Linked DNA regions of Homo sapiens. The protein of the gene in region 1 purifies or fractionates together with the protein of each later gene. This does not show direct contact. Each region holds a gene or a part of one and is shown on either strand. Other genes may lie near its edges.

The links.
Region 2: the proteins of TAL1 (region 1) and RCC1 purify together in Homo sapiens (affinity purification with mass spectrometry, with the first as the bait; one study listed by BioGRID). This does not show direct contact.
Region 3: the proteins of TAL1 (region 1) and DLAT purify together in Homo sapiens (affinity purification with mass spectrometry; one large-scale study listed by BioGRID and IntAct). This does not show direct contact.
Region 4: the proteins of TAL1 (region 1) and ATP5F1C purify together in Homo sapiens (affinity purification with mass spectrometry; one large-scale study listed by BioGRID and IntAct). This does not show direct contact.

What each region holds. Positions count from the first base shown.
Region 1 is NC_000001.11:47,221,403-47,226,160, reverse strand, and holds part of TAL1 (T-cell acute lymphocytic leukemia protein 1), read left to right. Parts: intron 1-271; 5' UTR 272-272; coding exon 273-718; coding exon of another isoform or gene 719-895; intron 896-2,062; coding exon 2,063-2,157; intron 2,158-4,758. UniProt on the Homo sapiens protein: Implicated in the genesis of hemopoietic malignancies. It may play an important role in hemopoietic differentiation. Serves as a positive regulator of erythroid differentiation.
Region 2 is NC_000001.11:28,525,883-28,530,640, reverse strand, and holds part of RCC1 (regulator of chromosome condensation), read right to left. Parts: intron 4,284-4,758; exon of another isoform or gene 4,028-4,283; intron 3,708-4,027; exon of another isoform or gene 3,403-3,707; intron 784-3,402; 5' UTR 775-783; coding exon 702-774; intron 119-701; coding exon of another isoform or gene 26-118; intron 1-25. UniProt on the Homo sapiens protein: Guanine-nucleotide releasing factor that promotes the exchange of Ran-bound GDP by GTP, and thereby plays an important role in RAN-mediated functions in nuclear import and mitosis.
Region 3 is NC_000011.10:112,038,248-112,043,005, reverse strand, and holds part of DLAT (dihydrolipoyllysine-residue acetyltransferase component of pyruvate dehydrogenase complex, mitochondrial isoform 2 precursor), read right to left. Parts: intron 3,763-4,758; coding exon 3,609-3,762; intron 1-3,608.
Region 4 is NC_000010.11:7,804,517-7,808,899, forward strand, and holds the end of ATP5F1C (ATP synthase F(1) complex subunit gamma, mitochondrial isoform L (liver) precursor), read left to right. Parts: intron 1-2,457; coding exon 2,458-2,464; 3' UTR 2,465-2,494; exon of another isoform or gene 2,495-2,500; intron 2,501-3,142; coding exon of another isoform or gene 3,143-3,146; 3' UTR 3,147-3,285; downstream 3,286-4,383.

The DNA.
Region 1 (4,758 bases):
TCTTCCTCCATCTCTGTCCTTTTGGCCCTCAGTCTCTGTGTCTCCCAGGCACCCCTCCCTTCTCCCAATCCAGAGACCCTCTTTCCCTCCCACCCTAGCCCCAACCGGCCTCCCGCCCTAGCCCCACGTGGCGCTAACTTTGTCTGCCTCTTCTCACGTCTCGGTGCGTGAGTTCCTCTCTCTGCCCTTCTCCCCTTTACCCCAGCCCACGTCGGTGGGTCAGGGGCGGTCGTCAGAGCGGGCATCCGCTTGTCTGTCTGTCTGCCCACAGGATGACCGAGCGGCCGCCGAGCGAGGCGGCTCGCAGTGACCCCCAGCTAGAGGGACGGGACGCGGCCGAGGCCAGCATGGCCCCCCCGCACCTGGTCCTGCTGAACGGCGTCGCCAAGGAGACGAGCCGCGCGGCCGCAGCGGAGCCCCCAGTCATCGAACTGGGCGCGCGCGGAGGCCCGGGGGGCGGCCCTGCCGGTGGGGGCGGCGCCGCGAGAGACTTAAAGGGCCGCGACGCGGCGACGGCCGAAGCGCGCCATCGGGTGCCCACCACCGAGCTGTGCAGACCTCCCGGGCCCGCCCCGGCCCCCGCGCCCGCCTCGGTTACAGCGGAGCTGCCCGGCGACGGCCGCATGGTGCAGCTGAGTCCTCCCGCGCTGGCTGCCCCCGCCGCCCCCGGCCGCGCGCTGCTCTACAGCCTCAGCCAGCCGCTGGCCTCTCTCGGCAGGTCAGGGGCCAGGGGCCAGGGGCCAGGGGCTGGGCGGGTGGGCAGGGCGACCACCCCCACCGGGGTTTCCTTCTACACATCGGCGGCGGCCTGCCCTGGGGGCCGAGCGGGTGGAGCGCAGGGAGAGGAGGTCGTTTTAAACCCAGTGGCTCTAGAGCCTCAAGCTGGAGCCCCCGAGTGAGTGCCAGTGAGGGAGGGGCCTTCTGTGAGAGAGAGTGTGCGTGTGGCTGCGGGGTGCATGGCTGTGTGGAAGCCGAGAGGAGGACGTGGACACCTTCGCGGGTGCAGGCATGTGGCTGGTGTGCTTGGTGGTGGTGTCGTGGGGGACGGAGAGGAAGGAGTCCCCTGAGCGTGGGTACCAGGAAAGAGTGTGCCTGCATGTGCTTTGCTGTGAGCAGAGGTAGATGTTTGTGGTGTGAAATTCATTCGGAAACTCAGCGCTAGCTGGACAGGCAAGAGATAAGGATCTGAGGGTGGTGGCAGAGGCACCCTCCCCCGAATCTCTGCTGGAGGGCCCGCCTGAGGACTGACCTGTCCCTCCACTCCCAGCCCCTCTGCTCCTAGCCGTGGTCTCTGGCCCCAGCCTGTACTCCGGTTGGTGTCAGGGCATCCGTTTCCCTGCTGGCGCTACTGTGATGATGAGGGAGAGAAGCCATAGGGTTGGAATAGAAACCGGCAGATGGGGCAGGGATAGAGTGTGGGGCAGTCAATGAACCTGGCGGGCACCCGAGACAGAGCTATGGGGAGCTTAGGGTGGGTGAGGGCAGAGAGCTAGGCGGAGCATTTCAGCTGAGGGGAGTCAGGGTTTCCTGTCTGTTGTGTATCTACAGCCCCTTATGGGTGGGGTGAGGTGGGGAGAGGGGACAGTGTGCCCCTTTGTGGTGACCAAGATGCACACCATCAGGTGTGAAGGTTACATTTGCCTGAGTGGGCATGTGTTTGGGAGTGGAGGTGTGTGTGGATTATGTGCTTGTTTCTGGGGCGGGAGAATGGAGAGTGTTTCTATCTGTGAAGTGTGTGTGTGTGTGTGTGTGTGTGTTCATTTTTGTGTTTATTCCATGTGTTATTCACCTCTGCTTCTGCATATGTGCCTGTGTTTGTGTGGAGGGATGTGTGGTTAGGTGTCTTTTCCTCCCTTTGCTTGTTTTATGACAGACAGAGTGAGGGCATTCCGTGTGTATGTGTGTGTGTGTGTCTGTGTGTGCCTATTCCCAGCTCAAGTGTGAAGGGACCAGGGTTGCCCAGAGGTGGGGGGCTCAAGACATGTGGGGAGGATCCCTAAGGAAGCTCTTTCTCCCCTCCCCTCAACATGGGATCTTGTGATCTGCCCGTTCCCTCCCACAGCGGGTTCTTTGGGGAGCCGGATGCCTTCCCTATGTTCACCACCAACAATCGAGTGAAGAGGAGACCTTCCCCCTATGAGATGGAGATTACTGATGGTGAGTCTGCCCCACCCCACCGTTGTACCTGCCCCTCACGCTGGTTAGAGCCCTCTGGAGGAGGGAACATCTGGGACTACTCCGTAGGTATCTCACAAAGATGGGCGGGCCACTTTCCAAACCCAAACTGCCGAAGCCCTTCACCCTGCAGCTGAGCTAGGGCTAAGTAAAGTCCTGGATGGGGCTAGCAGGACCACACTCACAGTCCTGCAAAGAGGAGGCATGGGAGAGAGACACATAATGGCGCTTAGCCCAAACCTCTGGAGTTAGTTCCCAAACCTTTGGAGTTAGTTCCAGTCCCCAGTCCGGGCTCCATTCCTACACTTTGGCAAGGATCCCAAGTGGGCGCAGAATCACACAGTGTCCCCCGATCCCCCATTCTAGGCACTGACCCTCAGGGATTCCCTGCACTTCCTCCCAAGTCTTCCTTAGAGTCTGGAGTCTGCTTCCTCCCTGCAATGGAGTCATCAAGGGTTTTCTCCGAGGTCCCTACACAGTAGGCTCCCCTTGTCTCCCGTTAACACATTCTGGGCTTAGACCTGGAGTTCCCTTCCTGACATCATGGATTCTACCTTGCCCCCTGGATTCCCCGAGAAGGGCCTTGGCACTGCTCCTTTGAGGTACTTGAATATTCCCTGAACTTGCAGGGGTGGTTTGGACAAATGGGAGATTTGGAAGACCCTCGCCATCTTTCCAAGGTTGACCTTGTATAGTAGATTGGTCCCAGCACCAGGGGTAGGAGAGCAGGCACTTCAGAGCTGAGGGACTTTGAGCCAGACCCAGATGCCCCCAGAACTTCAGCTTGGCTGTGGCCTGGGGCTCCTGTAGGAAGGCTGCCCAAGGCCTCAGAGCAAGGCTGGGATTTATGCTCCAAACTGGTGGGAGGAATATGAGTATGGAGCTGGAGCCTCTGGAGTGGAGCCCTCTGTGGTGTTCTGGAGAGGAGCGGGGCTGGGATCTGCACAACAGAAAAGACTTCAAAAGACCCAAGCAGCCTGGGGCACAGGTGTGCAGGGCTGAGAGGCAGGGGTGCCTTCTGCTAGATTAGAGAGGAGTTCTCTAGTCTAAGAGAGGTGGGTGTACCAAACAGGAAGAAGACAGGACCAGCCCTGAAGTTCCCCAGGGATGAGGCATTTTCTACAATAGGCAGAAGAGGCAGAGCATAGGGGCGAGGGTTTGTGGGGTGTGCAGGAGTGTAGGGCAGTCATTATCCATAAGTGTTGGCAATATTTACCGAGCACCTACTCAGTGCTGGCCAGAGAGAGGCAGAGGACACCAGGAGGGGTAGACAGACTCAGGAAAGAGGAAGGTGAGGAGAGGGGGTGGTTCTCTGGAATAAAACCAGAGAGGAATAGGCAGACATGTAGGCGAAGGGTAGGGTATGAGTGTGCAGGATGTGTCTAGGGGACACTGAAATTAGAGATTGAACCCAAAAAGAGTCCATAGAAGTAGAACTAATGCAAGATCTAGAGTTAGGACTTGATGTGGATTCCTGTTGCTGAATTGCTACTACCATGTATTGGACACCTACTATGTGCCATGGACTATGTGTGCTTGATTTCTGTTTATTCCTTACCACAAGCTCATGAGGGCAATATTATTGTTTACATCTCACAGATAAGGAAATTGAGGCTGAGAGAGGTTACCCAGCTTGATCAAGGTCACACAGCTAAGTCCTGGGTCACACAGCTAAGTCCTGGACCACCCTCATAACACTGGTCTTAAGCTTTGGAATAAGTCCTGACCACTTCCCCACCATCTCCCCTTCTGGATGTAGTCTAGCTCCAGCTGTGACAGCAGTCATAAGTACCCCCTCCCCAACTAGGAGCTCCCTCAAGATCACCAGCATTAGCCATGGTGGAGGGACTGTCCTCCCTATGTCACTGCTGAGGGATGCTCTCTGTCTGGCCTGGAGGCCTGAAAGCAGCAAGTAATTTCCTCAGAGGCCGCCCAGGGTAGAACTGCCCTGCAGTTGTGCTGTGTTTTTCCCAGGCTGGGTCTGGCCTTTGGCAAACAGTCAGCTGGGCTAGGGCCTGCTATGGTTTGGAAAGGCAGCTTCAGAGGTACCATGGGCAGGGGATGGTGATCCTTCCCATTAAAAGTGTGTGTGTGTGAACACCCACACATGCATGTGCATGCCTGTGTGCGTGTAGGAGAGAGAAAGAGATGATCAGGCAGTAAGTGTGGCATGGATGAGCTGATTCACAGACTGACCACTGAGGTGAGGTCTGCTTCCATCCCAGCCTCAGTCTCCTTAGCTATAAAATGGGCAGTGGGACTTAGGTGAGGTCTTAGCTCTTCTCCTCTACCTCGGTTTTCACACTCTGAGGTCTGGTTCCAGGGGTTACTAGAAGAGGGAAAATAAATATCCTAGGACTGGCAGTTCCTTCAGTGCTCAGAGCTTCCTGGACTATGTGACCCTGGCTTGTGCCTCGATGTTAGGGAGAGAAGCAGTCTCCTCAGCCCAGAAGTTCAAGAGCACTAGTAGGACCCTTCACTGTCTTCCCCTGGCTTTACAAATCCCCAGTGAGTCTTGAACACAGCACAGTGCTTTGCACACCATAAGTGCCCTAGACATGTGTGCTGGTATCTGCCACTGCT
Region 2 (4,758 bases), about 19 Mb from region 1:
GAGGGCGCCCCGGGCGCGGAGCCACCTGGTCGGGTTTTCTGGTCAGGAGGGCTCGGCCCGCAGGCACCTTGGCAGGAGCGGGCGCCAGGAACGCGGCGGGAGGCAGCGGCCCTCGTGTCTGCAAAAGACAGACACTGTCTGAGCGTGGGTCCACACTTCCCCTCCCAGTTTGGTGCTGGCTTTTCTCTCCTCCCTGTCCCCCTCCGGGGTCCCAGGACAGAGGAAACCACAGCCACCTCCCTCAAATGCTGCCAGGCCATTATCTCATCTCATCCTCACACAGCCCAGAGAGGGTGACGCTGCTCTGGCTGCCGCCATTTTAAGAAGTTGATAATCCAAACTGCGGGATTAAGTGACTTGCCCAGCAGCTAGAAAGTGGCAGAGCAAGGACTTGAACCCATGTCGGAAAGTCAGTGGTCCTAACCATAATGCATCACTGCCTGGGGTGAAGCCCTAGGGTCTAGTTTTTTTTTTTTTTTTTTTGTGCCAGTGCTGCCTGAGTGCTTTGAGAGGAGTTTCTGCCCACTTTGTGATTCCCAGAGGGTAGGATTCAATGAGCTACAGGAAACCTTCCAGCTGGGTGGGGTCTCTGCACATCCACACCCTTCAGCTTCAAGCCTCAGGAAGAAAGGAGCCCAGTCCCGGGTTCTTAGGGTTTCAAGGGGCCACCTGTACCCACAAAGAGGCCAAGGCCAACTTACCCTTCACCTTCTTGCTTTTGGGGATGGCATCTGCTGGGGGGGACCTTCTTTTAGCTATGCGCTTGGGTGACATCTTCCTGTCCTGAAAGTCAGTCAAATACTACATATGAGAAATGGCAAACATTTTCCTGGGCCAATCAGACAATATTTATCAAACACTCTAGAAATACGTTAAGAGGAATTGCCCAACAATTCCACTTCTCAAAATGTATCCCAAGAACAGAATAATGGATGCACCCACAGATTAATTACACAAATATTCTCTACTGTATCCTTCATAACATTTTAAAAACAACAAAAACAGAACCCGAATGTTCAATAGTAGTGAACTAAATATGTGGTATATTCATGATAGAACAGTATGAAGCCATCAAAAGTGATGTTTTCAGAGATCAATCTATTGAATAGAAAGATGTTCCCCATTGCCAAGTAAAACAAGCAGAATGAAAAACAGACGGCCAGGTGTGGTGGCTCACATCTGTAATCCCAACACTGTGGGAGGCCGGGGCGGGCGGATTACCTGAGATCAGGAGTTCCAAACCAGCCTGGCCAACATGGCAAAACCCCGTCTCTACTAAAAATACAAAAATTAGCCAGGCACAGTGATGGGCACCTGTAATCCCAGCTACTCAGGAGGCTGAGGCAGGAGAATCGCTTGAACCCGCGAGGTGGAGGTTGTGGTGAGCCAAGATCGAGCCACTGCACTCCAGCCTGGGCAACAGAGCCAGACTGTCTCAAAAAAAAAAAAAAAAAAAAAGCCTGGGCGCGGTGGCTCACGCCTGTAATCCCAGTACTTTGGCACTTTCGGAGGCCAAGGTGGGTGGATCACTTGAGGTCAGGAGTTCGAGACCAGCCTGGCCAACATGGTGAAACCCCGTCGCCACCAAAAAAAAAAAAAAAAATACAAAAATTAGCCAGGCATGGTGGTGTGCGACTGTAATCCCAGCTACTTGGGAGGCTGAGGCAGGAGAATTGCTTGAACCTAGGAGGTGGAGGTTGCGGTGAGCCAAGATCATGCCATTGCACTCAGCACTCCAGCCTGGGAGAAAGAGTAGTGAAACTCCACCCCCCAACCAAAAAAAAAAAAAAAAAAAAGGAAGAAAAACAGCCTATCATCCATTTTTTTTTTTTTTGGAAAAAAAATGCATACACAAAAAATATGTGAGAAAAATGTGGGGAAGAAAATATATCCCATATTAACAATGGTAACCTCGGAAAATGGTATTATAGATAATCATTACTTGTTTCGTTTTATCTTCCTATATTATCTAAGATGTTTAACAAGGAGCATTACATGTATTTTTCTGTTTTTTGAGACGGAGTCTCACTCTGTCGCCAGGCTGGAGCGCACAGGCATGATCTCAGCTCACTGCAACCTCCACCTCCCGGGTTGAAGCAATTCTTGTGCCTCAGCCTTCCGAGTAGCTGAGATTACAGGTGTGCATCACCATGCCCTGCTAAGTTTTGTTTTGTTTTTGTTTTTTTGAAATGGAGTCTCGTTCTGTCACCCAGGCTAGAGTGCAATGGTGCGATCTCGGCTCATGCAACCTCTGCCTCCTGGGTTCAAGTGATTCTCCTGCCTCAGCCTCTCGAGTAGCTGGGATTACAGGCACCCACCACCACACCCAGCTAATTTTTGTATTTTTAGTAGAGACGAGGTTTCACCAGTTTGGCCAGGCTGGTCTCGAACTCCTGATCTCAGTGATCCACCCCGCCTTGGCCTCCCAAAGTGCTGGAATTATAGGCGTGAGCCACTGTGCCCAGCCCAAATTTTGTATTTTTAGTAGAGACGGGGTTTCACCATGTTGGCCAGGCTGGTCCCAAACTCCTAATCTCAAGTAATCCACCTGCCTCAGCCTCCCGAAGTCCTGGGATTACAGGCGTGAGCCACTGCGTACAGCCGATTACATGTTTTTTTTTTTTTTTTTTTGAAGCAGAGTTTTGTTCTTATTGCCCAGGCTGGAGTGCCATGGCGCAATCTCGGCTCACCACAACCTCTACCTCCCAGGTTCAAGTGATTCTCCTGCCTCAGCCTCTGGAGTAGCTAGGATTACAGGCATGTGCCACCACGCCCGGCTTATTTTGTATTTTTAGTAGAGATGGGGTTTCTCCATGTTGGTCCCGCTGGTCTTGAACTCCTGACCTCAGATGATCCACCCACCTTGGCCTCCCAAAGTGCGGGATTACAGGCGTGAGCCATCGTGCCTGGCCACATGTATTTAAAAAATTTTTAAGTCTGTTGTAAAAAATTAAAACATTGAAGAACAACATTAAATGAAATATCCATCATAACTCCATTCAACCCCATGTAAGCACCAGTAACTTTGGTAATGTGTTGTTATAATCAGAGGGGGAGAAGAGCTATTTTCTTTTCTTATTTAATTGATTGATTTTTTTTAGAGACAAGGTGCCACCACACCTGTAATCCTAGCACTTTGGGAAGTCGAGGCAGGAGGATCGCTTGAGCCCAGGAGTTCAAGACCAGCGTGGGCAACATGGCGAAACCCCATTTCTATCCAAAAAATTACAAAAATTAGCCGGGCATGGTGGTGCACGCCTGAAGTCCTGGCTACTCAGGAGGCTGAGGTGGGAGGATGGCGTGAGCCTGGGAGGCTGAGGCTAAATTGAGCTGAGATTGTGCCACTGTACTTTAGCCTGGGCGAAAGAGACAGACACTGTCTCAAAAAAACAAAAACACACATGCACTGAAGATCGCGGCTGCTGTGGGAAGGTTACTCTGAGCATCAGTTGCCCGGCATGTGAGTGCCATTCCTTGGGGGCATTTCTGCCACTGCAGCCCTCAGGCCTGCTGCTTCTGGAAGAACAAGTTTGACAAACATATTGTGGTCTGGTTCCGGTCAAGCAAAATTCTGGTACCAGTTCCTCATACCATGCACCTGATGTCACCCAGCATGCGCCCTATTTTAAGGGTACAGCCGTGGTCAATGGAGAGTTCAAAGACCTAAGCCTTGATGACTTTGAGGGGAAATATTTGGTGCTTTTCTTCTATCCTTTGGATTTCTTTCTTTTTTTTTTTTTTTCCGAGACGGAGTCTTGCTGTGTCACCCAGGCTGGAGTGCAGTGGCACGATCTCGGCTCACTGCAACCTCCCCCTCCTGGGTTCAAGCCAATTCTCCTGCCTCAGCCTCCTGAGTACCTGGAATTACAGGCGCCTGCCACGACGCCTGGCTAATTTTTGTATTTTTAGTAGAGATGGGATTTCACCATGTTGGTGAGGCTGGTCTTGAACTCCTGAACTCAGGTGATCCACCCACCTCAGCCTCCCAAAGTGCTGGGATTACAGGTGTGAGCCACCGCGCCCAGCCCTATCCTTTGGATTTCACCTTTGTGTGTCCTACAGAAATTGTTGCTTCTAGTGACAAAGCTAAGGAATTTCACGATGTGAACTTTGAAGTTGTTGCAGTCTCAGTGGATTCCCACTTTAGCCGTCTTGCCTGGATAAATACACCAAGAAAGAATGGTGCTTTGGGCCACATAAACATCGCACCCTTGTCAGATTTAACTAAGCGAATTTCTCGAGACTTCGGTGTGCTGTTAGAAGGTCCTGGTCTTGCACTAAGAGGTCTCTTCATAATTGACCCCAATGGAGTCATCAAGTACTTGTTTTTGTTTGTTTGTTTGTTTGTTTTTTTGAGACAGCATCTCACTCTCTGTTGCCCAGGCTCAAGTGCAGTGGCACAATCACGGCTCATTGCAGGTTTGACCTCTTGAGCTCAGGTGATCCTCCCACCTCAGCCTCTAGAATAGCTGGGACTACAAGTGCGCATCACAGTGTCCAGCTAATTTTTATATATTTTGTAGAGACAGGGTTTTGCCAAGTTGCCCAGGCTGGTCTAGAACTCCTGGGCTCAAGCGATCTACCCGCCTCAGCCTCCCAAAGTGCTGGGATTACAACAGCTGTGAGCCACCATGCCCGGCCGGAGCCACAGTCTTTAAGGTCATGAAAAACAATCAAGTTGTCTAAGCCTCTACCTAATGTTACGAAGGGAAGGAGAACTCCAAGAGCCCTTCTCGGTCTCAGCTCTGGGCCTAACCA
Region 3 (4,758 bases), on another chromosome or scaffold:
GACCATAAAGAATTCCTTTTATACAGAATTTACAGGTATAACAATAATTGTTTTGACAAATCAAGTCGATTTTTTCACCCCAAAATAGCACGAATAACTCTTTACTGCAATTATCTTATCTTTAGAATCATTCATTCCTTATGTGGTCTCTATGACTCATAGCTTTTTCACAGTAGCCAAGGCTCTAAACTGGCCCGTGTTAAAGGAAATGAAGGAAAAAGGTGCAATGTCACACATGAGGAAGGATCTTCAAAGTTCTCTCAGTAGGTTTAATTTTACTTATATTCAATTTCCTCCCTCCTCCCACCTACAGCCTCTTAGGTTTAATTTTGGACCCAAGTAGATAATCTTGACCTTTAATTCTACGGAGATTCAGAATTTAGTTATTATTATAGAATACCTTTTACACTGGCCCACTTCTAGGAAAAATTTGGTCAAACTGATTCATCTTCCCCCAAGGCAGACTTTAAAAAGGACTCTTGTTGTGTGTAGTTCTTCCCAATTCCTTTCCTTCATTACGAAAACTGAGTTGGCTAGGATTGTATTTATCCTCACTAGGAGCTCTAGAACAGAGGTGGTAGTACCCCTATTAGATTTCTCTCCTTTGTAAAAGACAGAAACCATAACCTCCCCTTACAACCAAGGCTGATCTAGACACCACAGTCCCTCAAGAGGAGGAAATCCATAGTACCACCTGCCTTATGCTAAGCTTCAGCCACCCACAAGAATTTCCTGACTTAGGAGTTAGTTGAAACCTTGTAAACCCTTTTCCCTATCTCTCTTGGGCGGCACAACAGGCCATCATAAAGCAATATGGTATAAAGGGAACAACACTGGACTATGGGTAACAAAAAGTAGGGATCTTGTCAAACATAAACTATATAAACGTTTCATCCATTTCCATGGAGCAACCAAAATGATCTTTTCAAAACATAATCATTTTATTTCACTTCTTTGCTTAAATTTCTCAATGGCTTCCTCAAGTACTTTAAATAAAATTCAAACTCTTTACCATAATCTATAAGGTCATTTATGTTCTCATCCCTGTTTTTTTCCAATCTCATCTCCTACTAGACCCTTTGCTCATTATGCTTCATTAACACTGGCCTTTTTTTTTTTTCTTTGAGACGGAGTCTTGCTCTGTCGCCCAGGCTGGAGTGCAGTGGCACTATCTCGGCTCACTGCAAGTTTGGCCTCCCAGGTTCACGCCATTCTCCTGCCTCAGCCTCCCGAGTAGCTGGGACCACAGGCGCCTGCCACCATGCCCAGCTAATTTTTTTGTATTTTTAGTAGAGACGAGGTTTCACCGTGTTAGCCAGGATGGTCTCCATCTCCTGACCTGTGATCCACCTGCCTCGGCCTCCCAAAGTGCTGGGATTACAGGCGTGAGCCATTGCGCCTGGCCAACACTGGCCTCTTTTATGTTCCTCAGACATGCTAAACTCTTTCCCATTTCAGACTGTGTACAGCTAGTCTCTCTATCCAAAATGATCTTTCCCCAGTTCTTCACATGGTTGGCTCAAGCTGCCTCCTTCTTATCTTTCAAAACAAATCAAATGTCACCTCATCAAAAAGATCTCCCAACCAACCTGTCTAAAAGTAGTCATGACTGCACATATATCCATTCACCCTTTCACTCACTAGTATATCACTGAGTTTCTTTCTTTCTTAGCACTCAAATCATCTTATTTAATAACAAAAATATTATTATCATTATAGCTAATACCTAGATATGCTTTCTCTGTACAGGCACTGGTTAACTTATTTAAACCTCACAACCATTAAACCTAATGTTTTTATATACAAAGAAATTGTGACACAAAAGGTCACACAGCTAGTATAAAGAGCTGAGGTTCATACCCAAGCATTCCAGCTACAGAGCTCACACTCTTAACTACTATGCTATACTCCCTTTCTGTTCATTTAATTCTTTATTGTTGGTCATATAAGCAACTGAAACTGAAATCTTATCCATCTGATGAACAAGTGTCTGATGTGTAGATAGCAGTCGATGATATTTATCACCTAACTCTGCCTGCATAGTAAGAACAGTGGGATTTTCTTTCTTTCTTTTTTTTTTTTAACACTCCTCTCAGCTCATACCTAAGGGATTTTCCACTTATATCTTTAGTAAGGTAACGAGTATTGCTGAATATCTAATAAATGGTCCTTCTTTGCTTGTCTAAATTCTTTAGATATAATTATTAACCCAGTCCTTTCTCCCTTTAAAAGTTACTCCAACTTACACTGCTGTCCCTGATTCTAATCATATATACATATATGATAGCAATATACTACTGAAATGGCATTAAGATGGAAAAAAAAGAATCTTCCAATATTACAAGAATCTCTGAGGTCCAAAAAATTTACAACATTCTACTCTTGTGTCTTGGGATTGGCTTGACTTCTAACTACAAGATAGCAAATTGCAGATACGGGATAACCACCATTGAGTACCCATAACTAGAAAATTGGGGAAATAAGCATATTTTTCTTTAGTAATTATGGATGGCAGAGCATCAAAACAGAAGGCAGGATAGGGTAGTGTGAAGAAACAGGCTTTAGAGTTAAACAAATCTAGAGTTACACTGCAACTTTACTATTTAACAGGAAGGAAGAACCCTGAAGAGTCTGAGAGTCTGTTTTCTTATCCAGAAAATAAGGAATGATAATTCTTACTTCAAGAAGTGTTGTGTACATTAAGTATGGTAAGTTAAATGACTGACACATAGTACAAGCCATCAAACCAAGTTCCAAGCATAATAACTTCCCCCCATTCCAAATAAGTACCTTAGTTATCCTACACTAAATTTTAGCTTAAGTTTAATTCAAAAAAACTTATTTAAGCACCAGGCAGTAATATCAATATGAATGACAACTAACATGTATTGAGTACTTATATGCTAGATACAGTTCTAAGCACTTCACCTGTTATAGCTCATTTAACTCTCACAATCTATACGATGTACAGTACCTCAGTTTTACAGATAGAAAAGTAATTGACATAAGGACATACAATCTAAGTAATTCACTGGAAAACATATTACATAGAAAATTATAAAGCCAGGATTAAATGCTAGGTGGTCTGATTCCAGGCCCCATGCTCTTATCACAAAGCTATATTTTTTCTTTGGCGGCAGACAGACAAGTAAGGCGTTTTCCCTTGCCTTCAGGGAGCTCTAGTTCTGTTTTATATGAATTTTATTAAGTCATTCCAAATCACCCCAACTTCAAATTTTATTTTGCTTTGCTTATTGCTACAGTCAACCAAGCACTAACAGAGGTTTCTTATTACATAATCAAGTCCCATAACCAAATTTTACATATACTTTCACCAAACAAGCAGTTTCCATGAATAGAAGAGGAAAAAAAAAGGTATCTAAAGTGTATGGGTAGATTCTAGGCAGAGTAAATAAAGCTCAGTAAAAGTTTCCCTACTCTGTGGTGGCAACAAAAGAACTATTTCTCCCTTCTGAAGGAATTATTAATGATTGTCCCTACTATCCCAATTATAAGTACGGCTATACATAGTTGTACTTGCAAGTCTTAAGGAGGAAATTCAACTAAATTTTAACTTTATAAAGTCCATTCTATAGAAACAGATTTACCTTTTACTTGTGTAAGATCAATCCCTTTCTCTACTGCCAACTTCTTTGCAAGAGGGCTAACAAACACCCTTCCCTTTGGTCCAGCAGGAGTAGCTGGGCAGGGTGCTGAAGGTGTAGGAGCTAAAGGCTGGGGAGTTGGAGGAACAGCGGCCACCTTTTGAAAAAAAATTACAAATTGTTTTAATTCACCACTTCAAAGACTGGTCTGAAAGATTAAAAGTTTACATCTTATTAATAAATTAAAACTATTTTAATTAAATATTAATAACTTTCATTTTTCCAAAGATCATAATGTACTTTTCGCCAGCTTAACCAACATAATGTAGTAATACGAACAGCGAGAACAATATACTTCTATATCAAAGACAGAACAGTTACCTTATTCCATAACAACATGAAGCACAGAATTGAATATTGCCAATCAGTGTATAGTATTCTACAGCCTTTCTTCACTTTAATCTCTTACCACTTCTTTATTCGCATTCTTTTACATCACCAACATGATTTTTATTTTTAATTATCCTAACTTCTTTTTTTTTTTTCTTTTTATTTGAGACAGAGTCTTGCTCTGTCACCCAGGCTGGAGTGCAGTGGCGCAAACTTGGCTCACTGCAACCTCCGCCTCCTGGGTTCAAGCAATTCTCCTGCCTCAGCCTCCCAAGTAGCTGGGATTAAAGGCACGCACCACCACGCCCAGCTAATTTTTTGTATTTTCAGTAGAGATGGGGTTTCACCATGTTGGCCAGGCTGGTCTTGAACTCCTGACCTCAAGCGATCCACCTGCCTCAGCCTCCCAAAGTGCTGGGATTACTGGCATGAGCCACCACACCCAGCCAGCTAATTTCAAAATATAAAATTATGCTGTAAGGCCCCATGTTGAAAAGTATCTTAAGAAATACGGCCAGGTGTGGTGGCTCACACCTGTAATCCCAGCACTTTGGGAGGCCGAGGTGGGTGGATCACCTGAGGTCAGGAGTTCGTGACCAGCCTGGCCAACACGGTGAAACCCCTTCTCTACTAAAAATAAAAAAATTAGCCGGGCATGGTGGCTAACACCTGTAATCCCAGCTACTCGGGAGGTCGAGGCAGGAGAATTGCTTGAACCCGGGAGGCATAGGCTGCAGTGAGCCAAGATCACGCCACTGCACGC
Region 4 (4,383 bases), on another chromosome or scaffold:
GCCTCCTGTGTATCCTTCCTTACTCAGCTGGGGGAATCCTTTCTTCCAGAAAACACTCCTTCCTTCAGTCTGAGTGAGGCAGCCTTCTGCAGCATCCTGTCTTCCATTTAGCTTAGCTCTTACAGCCTTGTATGAGGAATTGGCTTTTTATTTGTCTGTGTGCTCCTCGAGGCTAGGATGGGACCATATCTTATTCACTTTTGTGTCCCCATTGCCTGGTACATACCTCCTTCGTGAATGTTGAATGAATGAATGAAATGCCATATGTATTCAGAACTGGAAGTTCAGAAGAGGGACAAATAACATTTTATTGGGTGTATGAAAATGTGGGTCCATGGTTTTAAGAGTCAGGGAAAAGTTCATCACTATTTAAAGTGTTCCTTAAGTGTTACTTTTCAAGGGCAGAAACTGGGCAGAATGCCAGAGAGACACAACTAGAACTTTTTGAGCCAACAGAGACCTTTGTGTAAGTTGTTAGTTGGATCCATCAGCCTCGCTATCCTAAGCATTCTTCTCTTATTTTACTTTCTAAGCACAGCTGTGTTAGGACTAACCCATTCACAGCCTGGTCACCAATGTTCTATCAGCATCACAGAATACTGTCTCATGGTGTCTAGCTTGATGAACTTGGTTAGGATACTCTCTCTGTTACTCAGCTTTGTCATCTGTAACATGGGGACTAATACAAGGACTAAAACCTTCTATTAGCCATTATCCTTCTTGCCATCTACCCCATGTTAAAGCCAGGCTGATTTGTTCTTGGATCTTAAGTGTGACAAAGCCTGCGGGAAGGAACCACATTCTGAAGGTTTGTGGGCTGTGTGAGATCCAGAGAACCCAAGGGGGTTTTTTTGCTCTTGACAAACGAATGTTAGGTATGACCTATGATGATACAACTTCTGCAAAATTGAGGACCAGCCTATTTCTTCATTAGAAATGCAGGAAACCTGGCCGGGCGCAGGGGCTGACGCCTGTAATCTCAGCACTTTGGGAGGCAGAGGTGGGCGGATCACAAGGTCAGGAGATTGAGACCATCCTGGCTAACTCGGTGAAACCCCGTCTCTACTAAAAATACAAAAAATTAGCTGGGCGTGGTGGTGGGCGCCTGTAGTCCCAGCTACTATGGAGGCTGAGGCAGGAGAATGGCATGAACCTGGGAGGCGGAGCTTGCAGTGAGCCGAGATTGCGCCACTGCACTCCAGCCTGGGCAAAAGAGCAAGACTCCTTCTCAAAAAAAAAAAAAAAAAAAAAAAGAAATGCAGGAAACCTATTTAAAAGTAACAGAAACAGCTGGGTGCATTGGCTCATGCTTGTAATCCCAGCATTTTGGGAGACCGAAGCGAGTGGATTGCTTGAGCCCAGGAGTTCAAGACAAGCCTGAGCAACATAGCAAGACCCCATCTCTACAAAAATGAAAAAATTAGCCAGGCCTGGTGGCATGTGCCTGTTGTCCTAGCTACTCAGGAAATTGAGGCAGGAGGATTGCTTGAGCCCAGGAGTTTTAGGCTGCGGTGAGCTATGATCGTGCCACTGCACAAAACCAAGAATTTAGAAAAAGGAATCCACATAATTGGAAATTGAGTATTAAGTTTTTGCTTCCTAGGAAGGTAGTCTAAATCCTTATACAAAAACTTAGCTATGCAGTGCCAAGGTTGGATTGCTTGTGAATGGGTTTGCATGCTCTGTAACCTATCAGTTATTCTGAATCAAGACTTGAATATTTAAACATACTTGGAAAAGAAAAAGATCAAAAAACAAAATAAACATATTTGGCTATTTAGTAATATAATTAAGAACATGAGTAAACCATAGTATTCGAGGTCCAAGTATTAGTTGCCAGCCTAAAAACTAAATATGGCCAGGCGCAGTGGCTCATGCCTGTAATCCCAGCACTTTGGGAGGCCGAGGCGGGTGGATCACCTGAGGTCAGGAGTTCCAGACCAGCCTGGCCAACATGGCAAAACCCCGTCTCTACTAAAAAAGTACAAAAATTAGCTGGGCGTGGTGGCGGGCACCTGTAATCCCAGCTACTCGGGAGGCTGAGGCAGGAGAATGACTTGAACCCAGGAGGAGGTTGCAGTGAGCTGAGATCACGCCACTGCACTCCAGCCTGGGCAACAGAACAAGACTCCATCTCCAAAAAAAAAAAAAACCTCTAAATATATTGTGTTAATTTATAGAAAAATTGTAATTTAAATTACATATTCATAGTCTTGCCTACTTGCATGAGCATGTTTTTATTGCTTCTAACCTGGATTGAAATCTATGACTTTTTATAACAGTCATTGAGTCTGTTTCAAAGGAATCTTGTGGTAAGTATTTTTGCATGATGTACTCAAGGTATCAAGTTTAACAATTGACTTTTTTTCATTGGAAAGCATATGTGATTAACTAGCATGGATTGCTTCTTGACCTGCTTGTTTTGTGTTTGTCTTTTTCTTCTAATATAATAACCAGGGATTAATGAAAATCAAGTTCCATCCTCAGACAAGAGGTAAAGTTCACACATTCTTCCCATGTCTGTTCAGAAAAGAAACCTATTCAGATATAAGTTAAGCTAATTTAGTAATCCTAGAATTGTCCTCTGAGAGATTTAGATGGATGGGCCACTTCACAGTAGCAGCCAACTCACGGGAGCACCTGGGCAACGCTAGTGGACTTTTTTGTAGTGAGTGTGTTGATCATAGAAAATGTAGATATAAGGAAATAAACTTTGAGGATAGAGAATTAACATTATTTTGAGATATTATATATAGGTTGTGAAGAGTGGTGGTTGTCACACTTTATGGTCTCTGGACCCCTTAATGTCTGATTCATGTAGCAGAAGCCAGCTAGATTTTCATCTGTCTCTATTCATTTTGTTGTGATGTCATGGATCATGTGGCCTCTGGAAAACTCTACTGTATACTCGAGAATGAGAATATAACAGGCAAAATAACATTATCATGAAAATAGTTTTGACCTCATGAACCCCATGAAAGGTTCCCCAGACCAAAATTTTAGAATCACTGGTATAGGGTAACACTTTATTGTGTAAATTCAGTTCTCTGTACCCCACTTAAATATGTATTATTATCTCTTGACATTATTTTCCCAAAAAATGCTGTTTGATTTCTTACTTGTTCTGTACTTTGTTTTTCAGGTAAAGAAGGAAAATTCAGCCAGTTGATTTTGTTTTTAGCTTACTGCTGCCTTTGTCCGAAGAAACTGTTCCTCCATTATTTGAATTACTGAAGACAGCAAGATATTTGTAAATTATCTTAAAATAAACAACTTAAAATAAAATCATTGTTTTTCTTATATATAAGAACAATAGATATAGTTTTTGAAATGAGATGATACTAAAACATTTAAAAATATTAATATGCTACTATTAAAATTTTTTAGTAGAAGACAATTTAAGAGGCTCTTTTGATTTGGTAGTGCTCCACTGACCTTAAAATGTCTAGCCTCTATGGGGACAACGTAGAGGGAAAGGGCTGCAGCCACAGCCTCAGCCCAGTTCTGTGCCTTATTACAGCCTTAAAGAACAGTCAACAAGACCAGGCACGGTGGCTCATGCCTGCAGTCCTAACACTTTGGGAGACTGAGACTCAAGGTGGATCACTGGAGGTCAGGAATTTGAGACTAGCCTGGCCAACATGGTGAAACCCTGTTTCTACTAAAAACAAAACAAAATACAAAAATGGTGCACACTTGTAATCCCAGCTACTCAGGAGGCTGAGGCAGGAGAATCGGTTAAACCTGGGAGGCAGAGGTTGCAGTGAGCTGAGATCGCGCCACTGTACTCCAGCCTGGGCAACAGAGTAAGACTCTGTTCCAAAAAAAAAAAAAAAATGCCACAGGAAGCATTTGCTTGGAATTCTGGATACAAAATTGCAAGCATATACTTACTCTAAATTATTTAAAACATCTTTTCTAAACACTGAGAAAAGTACGATACTCACATTTAGATCACAATTAAGATTAGATGCCTGCGTTGACTCCACACTCTGAGTTGGCCATGCCAAAATTTCAGGCTTTTCCCTATTTGTTTAAAATTGATAACTTAGTTTTTTGGGTTTTTTTTAATTACAAAAGTAATATATAAATTCCAAAATACATAAAATTATAAACAATATAAAACCCATTCTTAACAAGCTCCTCTTTTAAAAACAAATGAATGCATGTATTTAGAATGGATTCTTTAAATATTTACAGCTATATTCGTGGTAATGAATAAAAAGGTTCAGTGAACTGACCAGAGCTTCAAAGTCATTTTCTAACTCCCCTCAAAGTTTTCAGGAGCCACTTCTGAAGGGGTTGGTGGCTGAGACTAGGAGAAAGAAACAGCTCACAACTGAGGAATCAGATGGAGGTGTAGTGTGAACCAGTACAAGATAC